Linked DNA regions of Homo sapiens: region 2 is linked to region 1. The links come from fine-mapping of genetic effects on gene expression. A gene starts in region 1. The other region holds a variant in brackets. All regions are shown on one strand. Distances are between the middles of the regions. Region 1 holds the start of TRIM6 (tripartite motif containing 6). Region 2 overlaps TRIM6-TRIM34 (TRIM6-TRIM34 readthrough).

Region 1 (8,478 bases):
AGTACTAGCCTGGCTCTTCAGCTTTGCCATGCTTAGCAGCAGCGATGCTCACAGCAAATATCTACAGAAAGCCCATTAGGTATTCAGCAAGAATTTAATTATTTTGTACATAATAACTCAATAATTCCACATAACAACATTATGAATGTCCCTTAAATCTCATCTCATAGTTGTATAAACTGGTATTTAGTAGATCTTTCAAGTGGCGGGGCCGGTGTTGAATGCAGATACGCAGGCTGCAGAGCTGGAGCTCTTATTACTCCCTTATATTCCTCATCTCCATAAAGGGTGCAAAATATAATTAACAAATTAATGAACTCTGTGCATCTAACTGGTAGTACTAATTGGTGTTACAGACGTATTTACCTATCATCTGAGAGTCTGTTTAACCAAATTAATCACACCTGTGGGAACTGCACTATTATTTCCTTTGTTAATATCTCCTACCATACCCACATCATCTCACTTAGCACACTGCACTATAAGGCTCTATTGCCTTTGATAATAGAGGCAATAGAGGCTCTAGAGGCAATAGAGGCTCTATTTATCTTCCAGGTGCCCCAGACCTTAGCACTGCAGCTAACACAGGAAATGATCAATTAACTTTATAATGGATTGAAAATTATAGCTTACTGCTGAGCTTATAGTTGGCCTTGATGTTGGCACTAGAGTATAGAAATAAATGTGCTATCTTATCAAAGTGTTACTGTTAAAAAATAATTGTGTTGGCCGGGCGCGGTGGCCCAAGCCTGTAATCCCAGCACTTTGGGAGGCTGAGGCAGGCGGATCACAAGGTCAGGAGATCGAGACCATCCTGGCTAACACGGTGAAACCCTGTCTCTACTAAAAATACAAAAATTTAGCTGGGTGTAGTGGCGGATGCCTGTAGTCCCAGCTACTCGGGAGGCTGAGGCAGGAGAATGGCGTGAACCCGGAAGGTGGAGCTTGCAGTGAGTCGAGATCGTGCCACTGCACTCCAGCCTGGGCGACAGAGCGAGACTCCGTCTCAAAATAAATAAATAAATAAATAAATAAATAAATAAATATAATAATTGTATTGGTATTATATTTTAATTGAAAGTCCAATTCCAATTCATCCTCCCCAACAAACACATGCACACTTTCATTTCAGGCAAAACTGTATTTAGCGTACCCAATTCTCTTGAAGGAGAACTACTGCCTCATAAATGCAATGTAGTAATAGTCCCAAACTGAAAAGAATCCATGACATCACTAACTGGTAAATGAACAAACTGTGGTGTATCCATACAGTGGCATATTACCAAACAATTAAACTGTTAATATATACAACAAGATAAATCTCAAAAGCATGCAAAGTGAAAGAACCCAAACATCAAATTTAAGTTATTGTATGATGCTATTTATGTGAAATCCTAGAAAAGAGAAAGCTATGGTATTTGAAAGTACATCAGTGGAAGCCAGGGCCCAGGAGTGGGAGAAAAGTTTGAACTGCAAAGGGCATAAGGAAATTTGAAGGGTGAATACATAAAGGGAAATGCCCTTTATGTATCATGATCATGGTGGTGGTTACACAGCTGACTGCAACTGTGAAAATTCACAGAACTGTATGCTTACAATTTGTAACTTACTAGATAGAACTCAATAAACTGACAGAAACAAAAAAATACAAGAAAAATTAAAAGCTTGGTTTCTGATCTTCTAAGCATAATGGAACTGTGTTGTCAAACATGTAGCCAGATATGGCTCTTGAGCATTTGAAGTGTGGCTACTCAGAAATGGGTTGCTTTAGGTACAAAATACACATTGGATTTTGAAGATTTAGTTTAAAAAAGTTAAAGGATCTTATTAATTTTTTTATGTTGATCACATGTCCTAATTGTATTTTGCATGTATTGGGTTAAATGAAATGTATTAAAATTAATTTCACCCGCTTATTTTTAATGAGGCTACTTGAGTATGTAACATTACATATGTGGCTTCATTCTATTTCTAGTTCATTATATGTCTTTTTCCTATCTAATATGCGCTGTAGATATTCATCTAATACTCTCTTTAGACAGAGAAAAATTCTTGAGCAGAAAAAAGATTTGTAAGAGTTGAGGTCTCTTGTCAAAGCTGAGGCTTGGGAAAGAAATTGTGAAGGAGGGGAGCATACAGTTAGCATAGGTGACCCTTGCCCACACACCAGCAAGCCCTGACTGCCCACTGCAGCTAAGTGCAGCCCAAGGGAGATATGGGAGGCTGCCAGTTTCCAACTGAGGCCAAGTCTCCAGAGCAGTGTGGACGGGCTGAGAGAAGGCATTCTGACTGTGAGGAGTGCAGACGAGAAGAGCCTGCAGTCCCAGAGCCCAGTGCATCAAATTAGCAGAAGAAAGAGCCCAAATTCACAACCAGGTGGGACCAATTAAATCAGAACCAGACGCCTGAAAAAGGTCTGCTAACTAGCAACACTGCAAGCACTTGGAGTTCTTTATGCAGAATCTCAGTCTTTCCTGGAATGATTCAGAATCTGCACTTTAATATTAAAGTTCTCTAGGTGATTCTTACGCACATTAAGGCTTCAGAAGCACTGCCTTAGATAAAGGACCTTCTTTCCCAGGTGGATACAATTTAGGGTGCAAAACAGCTAGAAGAGGGAGGGGGACAGAGAATGGCCTGCTATTTAGATACGAAGCATCTTTTAGAATGGAAGCTTGCATCGATATCAAAATGGCTTTCAGAATAAAAATCAGTGACTCAGCAGGGGATACTGGGGCTGGTGTAGGCTGGGGGTTCAGAGTTAGGAATGACAGAGCGGGCCCGTCCACCAGCTGGGAGCCCTAGTGAAAGTGGAATAAAATAGGTGGCAGTTGCATTTATAAGTGAGTTGGGCATGAGTTCTTGCACTTTAGGAATAACATTTTTTTTTATCTTTGTGTAGGGTTATATTTAACCTATTATCTGCAATTGATTATCTAACAGGACTCAATAAATATTTGAATTGGAACATAATCAGTTTCAAAACAAAAAATTTAATTTCCACTTCAAAAGAATTTCTACCCCCTGCATTTCAGAAACCTATAATTTAAAAATTGTTTTGATTGTGCATTTTTTTAAAGCTAGGCATGGAGTTTGCCAGTAATAATGACCATAATTTGTGTCAGGCAGCCTCCTACGTGTTTAAATCTGTCTCACTCAATCCTCACCAAAACTCTAAGATATACATATTACTCCGTCCATCTTATAGATGGAAGAAACTAAAGCTCAAAGAAGTCAAGTTAACAGTCTTCGGGCACACAGCCAGTGTCTGTCAGAGTCAGGATTTGAACACATGCAGTCTGGCTGCGGCATCTATGCTCCTAACCACACATTTCTGTCTCTATTGACTGACTGATTAAAATGTCTCTAACCTCAGTGGGGTCATTTGCAGTGAGAAAGAAAAAGAAATAAAGATATAATGAGTTCCGAAAGGGAAAGGACCTTATCTCTTTCACTGCCCTGTCACCTCTGCCAGAAGTGACAATAAGAGCCAGTCAACAGAACGGTAGACATACCTCTCTGACCCGCACATCTGGGGAATGAGAAGCCAAGAAGTTCCAGATGTAAGCAATATCAGGTGGTCAAAGCTCTTCAGAGCAATCCAAGGCACCTTAAACTAATCTTAAGGAACAGAGCGCGCTCACTCGGCTTTTATCTAAACTCAACCACGCACGACTCTGCTCCGTTCCGTTCCGAGAAAGGCAGGGGATCCCTCCTCCGCCAGCCTTTGGCCGTTGAACGGACGGACCCACAGGTCAGGAGTTTGCGGAAGGCTCATCTCCCAACTCCTTCTGGGAGGAGTCGGGCCGCCTGGGGTGGGGGATAAACGGTGCTCACTTCCTGGAGCGGCCAGGCTGGAGATGGGGGAGGGGAAGGGGGAAGGGGGAAGGGGGAAGGGGGAAGGGGGGAAGGGGAGAACGGGGGAAGGGGGGAAGGGATGCTGACTCTGAATCCACGCCTGACAAAATGGTTTGCAGTGATTCCCTAAAGCAGTTTCCAGAGCTGCCTCCTCTACATACTTCAGCTTGTAGAATAGAGGTTTAACTCTCTTTACACGGCCTATTCCCAGCTGCAAAGGTGCCTCTTCTGTGCTCCCTTCCCAAACTTGAGTTCACTTGAAAATGCAGAAGTCTCCCTCATTCTTCTTTCACCCGTGAACCACCCCCAACCCGACCTGCAGAGCGGGTCAAACTCTCCAGACAAGTGGGGACAGCGGTAGCTGGCCAGAAAATAAACTTGCTCACTAACCTGGAATCTGTGGCCTGGATCAGAGCCAAGGACTTGAAGCAGCCGCGTCCTCCACCCAGGCCGAAAGACTCAGGGGGGAAGGGGCGGGGCCTGGGGAGGAGGAGGGTCAAATTGTCCAGCCCCGCAGGAGATCCAGCCGATTCCATGGGTGTGGTCACCAGTGACCCCTCAGGTGGTAAGGGAGATGGAGATGGTTTCTGAGGCCAGGCGCGGTGGTTCACCCCTGTAATCCCAGCACTTTGGGAGGCCGAGGCGGGCGGATAACGAGGTCAGGAGATTGAGACCATCCCGGCCAACATGATGAAACCCTGTCTCTACTAAAAATACAGAAATTAGCTGGGCGCGCCTGTGGTCCTAGCTACTCGGGAGGCTGAGGCAGGAGAATCGCTTGAACCCGGGAGGTGGAGGTTGCACTCCAGCCTGGAGACAGAGCGAGACTCTCTCTCAAAAAAAAAAAAAAAGAATTTTTGAAGGTAGCAACGCAAAGCTGTTCATCTTACCTGATGAACGGCAAATCCGGAGGCCTTTGAGAACACCAGGCCAGAGATGACCCTTGTAAATTGTCTGCAGTGTACTGTAGCTTTCTAATATCATATCAGAGTTTAATTACACTGATAATACACCTGTACTCCATATAGACGTATTAATTAAAATGTCTAAATAAACATATAAAGTTATACGAGTAAAAGCCCCTTTGCATAATGGCATGTTTTGCCAAACGATCATTAAAATTCATCAGTTTAAAATTACACGTATGTATGTATAAAGCTGTGTGTGTGTATCTGTAATTTTGACCTATATAACTAGAAGACAATCTTTGTTTTTATTTAGGTCTGATGAATACATGTAAAGCTTATTGAGCCTCAGAACTCTAACTACAGGGTTTCAATAGCACAGAAACTCTGAGAAGAAAAAGAATGTCAAAGTTCCTCCCTAAGGAGACTGATTAGGTGAGTATCACCTTGCCTTAGAAGGTGGCTTGGGGAGGGAGGTATAGAGAGAGAAGGGACTGGGGTGTCCATACAAAAGTCTGGACGGAGGATTGGGCAGTAGGGAGAGAGCTGGGTTAAGTATCAAGAGATTTCTCTGGACAGTCCCCAGGCAAATGAAAGGTCATTGGAATCTCGTAAGTGCAGACATGTGTCACTATTTCAGTGACTACCTCATGTCTGCAGGCTTAAGAAGCCACGCAAAGGTTATTTCAGATCACCCTTTGTGTAGCTTTCTTCACAACGGTTTTAGGTATGGCTGCCTCCATATTGCCCCTGGATGACGCTTCAGGTCAAAGCCTGCTTATGCTCTGAAATTCTCCTGACCCCACCCAAACTGCCCAGTATGGACACCACCCTGCCACTGGCCCAGCCAACATTTAAGTCCCTTGGAATACAAAATGGTATGATTGACACCCAGAGGGTTAGAAATATTGGAAAAGGGATGGAGAAGCCCAACCCAGAGTCCCTTCTCAGGCCATTTTCTAAGAGCTGATATAAATGGAAGTAACTTACAGGCTCCATAGTCTTGTCAGCATAGGGCTTCATTTCTGGGGCTAGTAGGCTCAGTTAAAAAAAAAGGATGTTGGCTGGGCATGTTGGCTCGCTTGTAATCCCAGCATTTTGGGAGGCCGAGGTGGAAGGATAGCTTGAATCCACAATTTTGAGGCCAACCTGGGCAACATAGTAAGACCCTGTCTAAAAAAAATAAGTAAATTGCCAGGCATAGCGGTACGTGCCTGTAGTCCCAATTACTTGGGAGGCTGAGAGGTGGGAGGATCACTTGAGCCCGGAAGGTTGAGGCTGCAGTGAGCCATGATCCTGCTACTGCTCTCTAGCCTGGGCAACACAGTGATAATCAGTCTCAAAACAAAAAAGAAAACAAAAAACAGAATGAAAGACTGTTTCTCAGTGTGCAGAATTTTTCCTTTTTGTTTGCTAACCAAGGCAGTTTTTATTTTCTCTATAATTTCTCATCTTGAACAGGGAGATTGGGCATTCTGACGGTTGAGAAGAAATGAAGGTACTTGGCAATAATTCAAGGGGTCTCGAAAAGTTAGATATAAATTTACCACATAATCCATCAAATCCACTCGTAGGAATCTACTCAAAAGAAATGAAAACATATCCGTGCAAAGATTTGTACACAAATGTCCATAGCAGTTTTACTCATATTAAAAAATGGAATCAACCCAACTGTTCATCAAGTATTAAATGTATTGAAAAACAAGTGGTATACCCAATACAGTGGAATACTGTTAGTGTTAAAAGGGAACCAAGTATGTGGGATCCAGAGGTTTGGTGGGGTAATATGATGCATCCAGTAGGACAGGTTTGAAGGTAAAGAGGGCACAGATTTGCTGACAGCCCCAAGTTCCTGAATACTCAGAGTACTTGCAGTTCTAGACTCAGGACCCACTGCTGCAGTTCTAGACTCAGGGTGGTATCAACAGAGCCAGCCTGTTATTATTACAATACTCAATATTAAATACTCAGTATATACCAGGAATATTGTTTAGTGCACAGGTTGAGGTGTCAAGATTTCTTAATAGCAATAAGTGGATATTAACATTTGATAGGAAAGAGGTTTCAGGAAAAGCAAACAGGACCATGACAAGGGTCACAGAATATTCTCATAGCCAAATAGTGATAAAAAAAATACAAACTCAGGAGATAGATTTTCTGTGAGCAAATCTCTAATATGCTCGAATATATTTTCTTTGAGGAAATCTCTAATATATTCACAGGAGAGAGACTTCCTGTGAAAAAAATCTCTAGTATATTTTTTCAGTACAACTTGTTTGAAAGCAGTGTTAGATGATTCCTGTTGTCAGAAATGTTTCTGCCCCTCTCATGGAAAACCCTTCTTAACTCATTACTACCAGCTGGGAGCTGATGGGAACAAAAGAAAAGAAAAAAGTAGATATTGCAAGGCTAAGATTAAGAATCAGGGTAGTTTATGCTTGAGAATTCAGGATAGGCCTAACTGGATTTTCTGAAAGATAATTGTTAACATCTGATTACAGGAAGAACTTCAGTAAAACCAAATGAAAACAAATTTCAGGGAGAAACACCTCTTGTTCCAGAGGCTTAGGGATGTAGGAGAAACAAGCCACCAATTTTGTTTTCAGATGCTTCTGATCATCAAACATGGACCTAATTAATGCATTTTTTTGGTCCTTTCCTCCCTCTCTTTTTTCCATCCTTCTTGTTTTCCCTACTTTCCTCTCATTTTTTCTTCTTTTTTCTTTTTCTTTTTTCTTTTTTTTTTTTTTTTGAGACAATCTCACTCTGTTGCCCAGGCTGGCATGTAGTAGCACAATCTCAGCTCACTTCAGCCACAAACTCTCGGGCTCAAGTGATCTTCCCACTTCAGCCTCTCAAGTAGCTGAGACTAAGGGCATACACCACCGTGCCGGGTAAATTTTTGTGTATTTTGTAGAGACAGGATTTCATTATGTTGCCCAGGCTGATCTCAAACTCCTGGACTCAAGCGATCCACCCACTTCAGTCTCCCAAAGTGCTGGGATTACAGGTGTGAGCCACCACGCCTGGCCCCATCTTTCCTTTGATATTTTATATTTTCTTCCTTCCTTCTTTTTAAAAATTTGTTTTGTTCTTTCTTTTCAGCAGACACATATTAAACTATATATGTCATATAGCACGGTATTTAAGATGGTATTTAAGATGATGGACTCTGGAACCAGTTTTGCCAAGATTCAGATCCTAGCTCATTTACTTACCATCTGTATGATTTGGGGCAAGTTACTTAACCTCTCTTGGGCCTCAGTTTCCCTATCTGTAAAATACCTACTGCATAGAGTTATTGTGAAGACTAAATATGCAAGTATATGTGGAGTACTTAGGACAGTCCCTGAAACACAATAGCTCGTCAGTGAGTGATAGGTAGCATTATTAACTATAATGAAGTACCAAGCATTTGGCAGGGCTCTGGAGTAATACCGATGAATAAAACATGAATTTTGCTGTGCATATATTCACATTCTAGTCAATTTGAAGAAAATCAAGCTAGTCACTTAAATATAGCTTTTTGTTTGTTTCTTTCCTATTATCTCATTTTCTCTAAATCCCCTTCCTAGATAATCCCATCCAGTTTCCTAGCTGACAAAGTCCTAACATTAACTATAGATCAGACCTCTTTTGGGCTCCAGAGTCCATGTGAGTAACTAACTCACAGGTAGAACAAAAACAAGATGTTATAACCTCAGCGGACTCATCT
Region 2 (8,478 bases), 38 kb before region 1:
AACCAGTTGCAAAAATAAACTCCCTTCTTTTCCAAGTCTGTCTGCATCTCATTGGACTGTGAAAAAAAGCAGCTAGACTTCATTCTGTACAGGTACAATACTACATTCCACAAAGAAGAAAAAACGGCACCAGTAACTAAGAATATCTAAAACATAAGCTGTTCTCCAGCCATATTGTTTCCTTTCTTATGCCGTATTGTCAAACTGGTATCAATATTCACTCAGTCCCTGTCCCAGACACTAAAACATTTTATCAAGCCAGTCCATCCTTAACTTCTGTTAGTCATCTGCATTCCCCCATCATCACCACTGTGGGTTAATTTGTTTTGAGCAAGATGTACCAATATATTTGGCTTTAACTCTTTCATGACACCAGCTGGTGTACAACCAAATAAATGGTTTTGCTCTCTGTATTAGCATAGTTTTGTTGTTCAACAACTAAAATTGCCTTAACTGGGAAGAAAGTAAGGGTTGTGGCCAGAGAGGTATTACTTTAGTCACAGATGGCTCTGGAAGCTCAAACCTCTGTCACAATTCTGGCCTCTCTGTGCCTATTAATTCTCATTTCTTCCCTATATTTTGACTGTATTCTCAGATTTTAGTTGATAGCAACTTGAATCTCTTTATTTGAATTATCTTCACTGATATTATTTTCTGCTAAAAAGGAGAACTTCCCTTCACTGCAATGACAGTACAATTTTGTCACCCACAAGCATTCAGGATTGGGTCAGATGTCCAACTTAAAATAATCACTGTGTGGCTGGTAGGGATGTAAGGATTGGATACGCTGATTTACATATAATTAACTCATTCATTCTTGATAGTGCTGATTTTCTCAGGTCTAAACAAGTACAAGGATGGAAATAGACATGCTAGTCTTTCTTGCAAGAGTAATTCCAGGTGTTATTACCAGAAAAATGGGGAATGGATATTGACGAAACAAAAATAATGAGTACCATGTAGCCCAAACCCTAGCATTATGCAACAGACCCTTATAAGAAACCTGTAGGACAAATATTCTATGATTCCACTTACATGAGGTACTTAGAATAGGCAAAGTCATAGAGACAGAAAGTAGAATAGTGGTTATCAAAGTAGAGCAGTGGTGACCAAAGGGAATGGGGAGCTGTTTTTTAATGGGTACAGTTTCAGTTTGGGATGGTGAAAAAGTCCAGAGAGGGATCCCACTTAATGGTTGCACAGCAATCTGAATGTACTAAATGCCATGGAATTGAATGTGCCCCCTGAATCTAAAATTTTAAGAAACCTGGAAAAAAAATTTTAAATAATAGTAACTGCCATCTTCTTTCCCTCATTTAGCTACCTACCATTCCATCCTTTCAAAAATAAAAATGGCCAAATATAATAAAACTATTACAGAAAGCATTAAAAATCAAAGTATCTCCTTTATAAGGGAAACAACCTAAAATCTCATCTAATTTTTGCATCAGTTTTCAAGTTGAGCGTCTTTCTGTCTAGATCGTTCTTTGGCAGTAAGTGTTGAATGCAGCTCTTACGAAATGAGTATCAGTCCCTCTAGCAAACAAACAATGGATATATGATAACACCATCCATCCCGATCGCCATCATGAGAATCCATATAGAAAGAAAGCTGTTACAGGGACTCTCAGGAGATGGGATTGTGGAGGAGACATACCACAAATACAACAGCACATATCTTTTTTTTTTAGACTGAGTCTCGCTCTGTCGCCCAGGCTGGAGTGCAGTGGCGCCATCTTGGCTCACTGCAAGCTCCGCCTCCTGGGTTCACACCATTCTCCTGCCTCAGCCTCCTGAGTAGCTGGGACTACAGGCAGCCGCCATCACCAGCTAATTTTTTGTATATTATAAAATGCCCGGCTAATTTTTTGTATTTTTAGTAGAGACGGGGTTTCACTGTGTTAGCCAGGATGATCTCGATCTCCTGACCTCGTGATCCACCCACCTCGGCCTCCCAAAGTGCTGGGATTACAGGCGTGAGCCACCGCGCCCCGCCAACAGATTATATCTTAACATATTGGAGAGGAATAGCCAAAGTCCCTACTCAGATAAAAGAATAAGTTCCTAAGTTTTCCATTTGCCATTCTTTGAAGCTAACATCTAGAAGTGAAATGTTAATCCCACAGCATTTATAATTTTTGATCTACCAATATTTTTTTAAATTCCAAGTGACCAAATAGCAACTAAGACTGACTGAAATAGGACAAATGCCTGGACAAATGACATAAACACAGTGTTCTTTTGTGAAGGTGGCGATTCAAAGGGTTGTGAAGAGCTTAAGGAAGAACCATAAAAAAGGGCCTACGGAACCTTTTTGTTTTTGTTTTTACTGAGATGTAGTTCAAATACCATAAGATTTGCCCTTTACAGTGCACAATTTAACAGGCTTTAAAATATTCACGATGTAGTGCAACCGTCATTGCACAGTAAATCCAGATCATTTTCATCACTACAAATAGAAATTGTACACTAATTAGCAATTACTTCCTATTCTTCCCCAGAGCTCTGGCAACCACTAATCTAGTTTCTATATTACGGATTTGCTACTTACAGACTTTCATATAAATGGAATCATACAAAAAAGAACTTGTGTTTGCCTTCTTTCAATTATAATGTTTTCAAGGTGCATCCATGTCATAGCATGTATTATTAATTCATTATTTTTCACAGCTAAACAATATTACATTGTTTGGATATAACACATTTTGCTTATCCAATCATCAGTTTAAGGAGATACGAGTTGTTTTATTTATGAACAATACTGCTGTGAACTTTCATATATAAGTTTATGCACAAATATATGTATTCAGTTCTTCTAGGTATATAGGTAGGAATGGAATGGCTAGGCCACATGAGAACTCTCTTTACATTTCTGAGCAACTGCCAAGCAGTTTTTCCTAAGTAGCTTTACTATTTTACATCTCTACTAGCAATTCAAGAAGGTTTCAATTTCTTCACATCTTCCCAAACACTTGGTATTGTCCATCTTTTTTTATTATAGCCATACTAATGAGTGTAAAATACGTTTAGGAACCTCTGTTCCAGAGTAATCTTAAATTTAAACAAAAAAAGAAGACAAAAGGAAAAAGGAATTTAAAAAAAGCTGGGATATAAGCACCAGAGACAAAGCAAACAATTCAACAAATGAAAATCAGTTACTCTCCTGCTTCGTTCCAAATCTTAAAAAGGAAATATTTGGAAATTCAGCAAAGAAAGGAGAGCACTGTCTGTCTATATATTTGTCCATCTTTCTCCCCAAAAGGCTCAATATTCTATCACTTTATGTTTAAAAAAAAGTAACAGGGGGCTGGGTGCGGTGGGTCAGGCCTGTAATCCCAGCATTTTGGAAGGCCGAGGCAGGCGGACCACGAGGTCAGGAGATTAATACCATACTGGCTAGCACGGTGAAACCCCATGTTTACTAAAAATACAAAAAAAATTAGCCAGACGTGGTGGTGGGTGCCTGTAGTCCCAGCTACTCGGGATGCTGGGCAGGAGAATGGCGTGAACCTGGGAGGCGGAGCTTGCAGTGAGCCGAGATCGCACCACTGCACTCCAGCCTGGGAGACAGAGCGAGACTCCGTCTCAAAAAAAAAAAAAAAAAAATTAACAGGGAACATTTGCATAACAAATAAGCATATTTTAAACTTAAATAGAACACATTTCTTAAATGTGTATGCTCTTAAACCTGAAAATGCATGTGTTTACCTGTGACTAACCAGAGTAAAGAGAAGTCTGATGAATGCTTGACACTAGATCACATATAATAGGGGCCTAGAGACTATAACTAGATATAATGGATCTTTTCTGCAAGGTAAAATGTATTCCCTTACTTCATAAATTAATAAAAATGTCATTCATGTCCATGACATCTAGAATGGACGACAAGGCGGCACTGCAAGGCCAAAGAAACCCCTTAGTGTCACCACCAGGATGAGAACGCAAGGACACAGGAGGGAACTGTGTTCCCAGAATCTCAGATTGAGCGAACCTTCTTACCTGCAGCAGCTCCATTGTTGACCACTGACTCCGACACTCCACATCTGAGATGAGCTCTCTCACCAACTGCTTCTGCTGAACTAGCTCATCCTCAGCCTCTGCAAACTTATCCAGCGTCTTCTTTTCTTCTTCTTCCAATCTTTGCAGCTCTCTCTGCTCCTCATTATTTAGGATGCTTCTAAGCTGATCAAATTCTGTTTGTATCCTTTGTCTCTCAGTTTGTACCTGATACTGCAAGGATGGACAAGAGAGAGTTGTAGTAAGTTTGTCAGGCTAAGGCCTATTGTGCAAGGGATTAGGAGCCAGTAGGGAAATATATATATATATATATGTGTGTGTGTGTGTGTGTGTGTGTGTGTGTGTGTGTGTATTTATATTATCTGTATATATATAT[T/ATT]TGTATTATCTATATATCGATTTTTTTTTTCAGGGAGTTCAAATCAGCAAGGGAGTAGAAGCAATAGAGGTACTTGGAGGGAAGCTATTTTTTCCTACTATTTTCCTTTCAGTACCTACCAAAACAATGACCTCAAACTGTCTTATCTAGGCCAACCCTGAGACAAAATATAAAACATAAGGCTTAGCTTCTAGATAGCTTTCCTGGATATTCATGACTGCCTGCCTTACCACACTCCTAATTTGAATCTTGAGGAAAACCATAGTCCTTTATGTAGTGTCTTCCACCAGAAGTAGTAGAGCCCCGTTGGAAAAGAGCAATGGAACACAGTATTTGCTAGCCTTCCTCATCATAGAGTCTATCTTTGTGCTCAGTTCCAGGTATGTATGTGTAATTGTAACATGTCCACTTTCTAGCCTCCACCCCCAACAGGGACAGGACAGAGAAGAGAACTAATCAAATGGCTTCAGGACTCATGCAATGTCAAGGAATAAAAAGGACGAGGCCTCCTTGGATTAAGGTCCTGTCAAGATTCCTGTCTCAGAAAACCTTCAGAATCTCCTCTTGCCTTCCAGGAAGTTTTCTCTTCTCTGATGTCAGCTTCCAGCTTCTCAGCTTCCTCCTCTTCCTTCTTCAGCCTCTTGAGGACTGCCTGGAGTTTCTCCTATGAGAAGGGAATCACACTACAGTCAAGCTATAAGCTTTCTTAGTATCTGGATAGAGGACAAACAGGGAAAAAATCAAGTTGATCCCAGAAAAAAGCAATTTACAGAAACTGTGAAGCTGGTGATTAGAATCTATGACATGGGGAAAATTTTGAGGAGATGAATGTATTGTTCATTCATTGTGATGAAAATCAATACCCCTCAAAAGGAGTAGCCTGATTCTGTCTTTCCTTAGAGTAAGTATTTACCCTGCAGAAAGTCCTTTCCTCTTATCAATGCTCTTTCCTCATTCAATCCACAATGTTCCTTAGCAATTATCCTGCTTAGAGAAGCAAGAGAGCTAACTTTGGGAAGGAATTTATCACTTATACAATGAAAAAGGAAAAAACAAGACAAAAATTTCTCATTCTTGGCTAAGAGACTGTACTCTAGGATCATCTGTTATGTAAATGAAAGGAATACACAAGAGTGTACCCCAGGCATTGGAAGCTGAGCACAGTGTGAAAGATGTACATGGAGAAGATCACGGGACTCAGAATTATGGTTCCACAGGGGGTAAAGAAGGATGAAAAGGGCTGACTCCTTTTTCAGACTCAGTCCGCCTGCACCCAGGTGATTAAAAAGCTTTATTGCTCACAAAAAAAAAAAAAAAAAAAGAAAGAAAAGGCCGGGCATGGTGGCTCACACCTGTAATCCCAGCACTTTGGGAGGCCGAGGTGGGTGGATCACAAGATTAGGAGTTCAAGACCAGCCTGGCCAAGATGGTGAAATCCCGTCTCTACTAAAAATCCAAAAAAAAAAAAAAAAAATTAGCCAGGCGCGGTGGCAGGCGCCTGTAATCCGAGCTACTTGGGAGGCTGAGGCAGGAAAATTACTTGAACTCAGAGGGCAGAGGTTGCAGTGAGCCGAGAGCACGCCACTGCACTCCAGCCTGGGCGACAGAGTGAGACTCTGTCTCAAAAAAAAAAAAAAAAAAAAAAGGATGAAAAGGTGAGATTTTCCACCAACTACCATCTTCTGCCCCATCTCCCTCCATCTAGGGCCCTACCTGACATTCCTTGAATACTTCCTCCGTGAGGACTGTGTGGTGACCACGGTGCTCCTGAGACCGCTCACAAAGCCAGCAAATGACTTTCCTATCCTCCTTACAGAAGAGTAGGAGTTTCTCTCCATGATGATCACAGAGATCTCTCTTCTTCCCATTGTCTGGGCTCAACTTGACCTCCTTGAGTCTCTCCACTATGTTGGCCAGATGCTGATTAGCCTGTAGATGTTCAAATGAGTAACTGATACCACACACAGGACAGCTGCTTTTTCCTCCCATGCTGGTCACTGCCTCCTTGTTGCTCACAGTGATGCAGGCTCGGCAGAGGCTGTGGCCACAGTCTAGACTCAAGGGTTCTGTCAACAGCTCCAGGCAGATGGGACAGGTCACCTCCTCTTGTACGTTAAGCAAGATTTTTGAAGCCATTGCACTGCTTCCCTGGCTTCTTCTGGTCCTAACTCCTGAGGCTCTCCTCTCTCTTCTGGTTAAAGACCCCTGGATGGCTGAGAAGATTGAAAGGGGATGGTATAAGAATGGTACAAATAAAAAGCATTCTAATTGCACAGACAATAAAGACTGGCCGAGACTGCAATATCAAAGAACAAAGAAGATGAGGAAGAGAAACCAAAAATGGCTGAAAGTGGTCTGGGCGAGCTGTTAATGCCTCAAGGCTTTTGCACTTGTTCATTACTCAGCCTAGAATTACCATCCTGTTGCTATTTGCATGACTTTCGTTTATACTTTTTTCAACTTTCTCCTTACATGTCCCTTCATCAGAAGGGCTGCTAAGACAAACTTAAGTACAGCACAACCACAAACTCATCATTCAGTGTACATTTGCCATCTTTCTTTTATTATCATTATCTATTTTTAAATGTCCACCTCTTCTTTCTAAAACATAATCTACATGTAGATTAGGCACTTTTGTCTTTTTACTGCTATAGCCTCAGTGTTTAGAACACAGAGAAGCACAATGTTTGATAAACATATAAAAAAAACTTCCCTGTCTCTCCACAGATGACTAAAACTTTATCATTGTTTCATTATCTTCCTTCCATTATTTGGAAATTCTTCAATAGCTGAACTTTAGAACCCCAGATGTGGTTTCCAGTGAAGAAGTGCTCGCCTCCTAACACATCTACCCACACAAAATCCTCCCATGCCCTCACAGACTTTCCAGAGATACCGACAGAAACAGCAATGACCACAATATGGAGATTTCATTACCAGTTACAATTTAAAAATCACTTTGGCCTGTTTGTTCCTCCTTCCAAAATTCTTGAGAAATAAGAGTACTCCCTTTCTTCAGATGAATAAATAAAATTAAATGATTTACAAAGATCACCCAATTCGATGGTAGAATTGGAGTGAACATAATACCCTCAGAGTTCTCTTTCAGAGGTCTCCATGCTACTCCACTTATTTAAACAAAGAAAAGCCGAGGTAAAGCCTGAAAGAAGTAGATTGGGATCCAGGGTTATGAGAGTGTAGAAATGGAGGAAACCACATAAGTTGGGAATTTCTGGGGGGGTCTTGTGTTTGTAGATGGTAGGATTTCTTCTTGGCCTGAAGGATGTTACAGAGGTTGATAGGAACCCAAAGGTGTGTATTCGTTGGGGGAGGGGTGTAACCAGCTGAATTACACATAGATCACAGATTCATACCAATGTCAGATCATCGAGGAATAGAAATAGCAAGGAGATGGCTGTTGGCCATGAGAGAGATGTCCCAATACATAAAGGGAGACCACATTTAGGAGCGATGAAGTTCTGTCTGTGTTAAATCCACATCCACTAATTGAATGCCAATTATTCATGTGTTTATTTTGGAAATTCTCACTGAAGACATATTATCTTCCGTGATTAAAATTCAGGAAATGGATTAAAATCCAAAGTTGAGTAATGAACAGATGGTATTAGCCAGAATAAAGTAAACAGTCACCTAAGAAGATAGAAGCTAATTATATAATCATTCATAAAATGTAAAATGGTAGGTGTAAAAAACACCATCATAGAGAGGTATAGGTTTTTAGAAGACCAAATAATGTGCTAAATAGAGAACTATCCAAGATATCTTGCTTGGATAAGTAAGAGTTTAATGAAAGCTGAATAATGAGAAAGGAATACAGAATGAGAAAGAAAACAAATATTTTAGGCAGAAGGAATCATGGAAGTGAATGCCCCGTTCATGGAGGACATAGCATCATAACATGTTCGAAAGTTTTTAAATGTGTGGCTGATATGCAAAAAGCCCTAGGCCTTGGCCTCACATGAGCCTAGAGGAACCTGGATATGTGACACTTCCTAAATGAAGTAAAAGTGACAGTCTCTTTCCAATGAATAGGAGGTGGGGGCAGGGATGGGAGGATGCAGGAC

What was found. PIP is the estimated chance that this variant, and not a neighbour inherited with it, causes the effect. A credible set is the group of variants that fine-mapping cannot tell apart.
Region 2: its variant is the best candidate, but not a certain one, in a credible set for the expression of TRIM6 in fibroblasts (GENCORD, PIP 0.89).

The regions. Positions count from the first base shown.
Region 1 is chr11:5,591,952-5,600,429 of GRCh38, reverse strand. TRIM6 (tripartite motif containing 6) reads right to left here and starts at 3,793. Exons shown (of 8, transcript NM_001003818.3): 1 at 3,516-3,793. The coding sequence starts at 3,532. It overlaps TRIM6-TRIM34 (TRIM6-TRIM34 readthrough), which reads right to left and starts at 3,793. Exons shown (of 14, transcript NM_001003819.4): 1 at 3,516-3,793. The coding sequence starts at 3,532. It also overlaps a transcript of TRIM5 not described here. RefSeq lists enhancers at 1-71, 3,809-3,858, 3,105-4,022, 4,177-4,471.
Region 2 is chr11:5,630,383-5,638,860 of GRCh38, reverse strand. It overlaps TRIM6-TRIM34 (TRIM6-TRIM34 readthrough), which reads right to left. Exons shown (of 14, transcript NM_001003819.4): 8 at 6,107-6,606; 9 at 4,962-5,057; 10 at 4,000-4,230. It overlaps TRIM34 (tripartite motif containing 34), which reads right to left. Exons shown (of 8, transcript NM_021616.6): 2 at 6,107-6,606; 3 at 4,962-5,057; 4 at 4,000-4,230. The coding sequence starts at 6,529. It also overlaps a transcript of TRIM5 not described here. Among named protein-coding and RNA genes, the nearest start is that of TRIM34, 9.6 kb to the right of the region's middle. RefSeq lists an enhancer at 6,445-6,684. The variant T/ATT (reference allele first, on the strand shown) is at 4,394.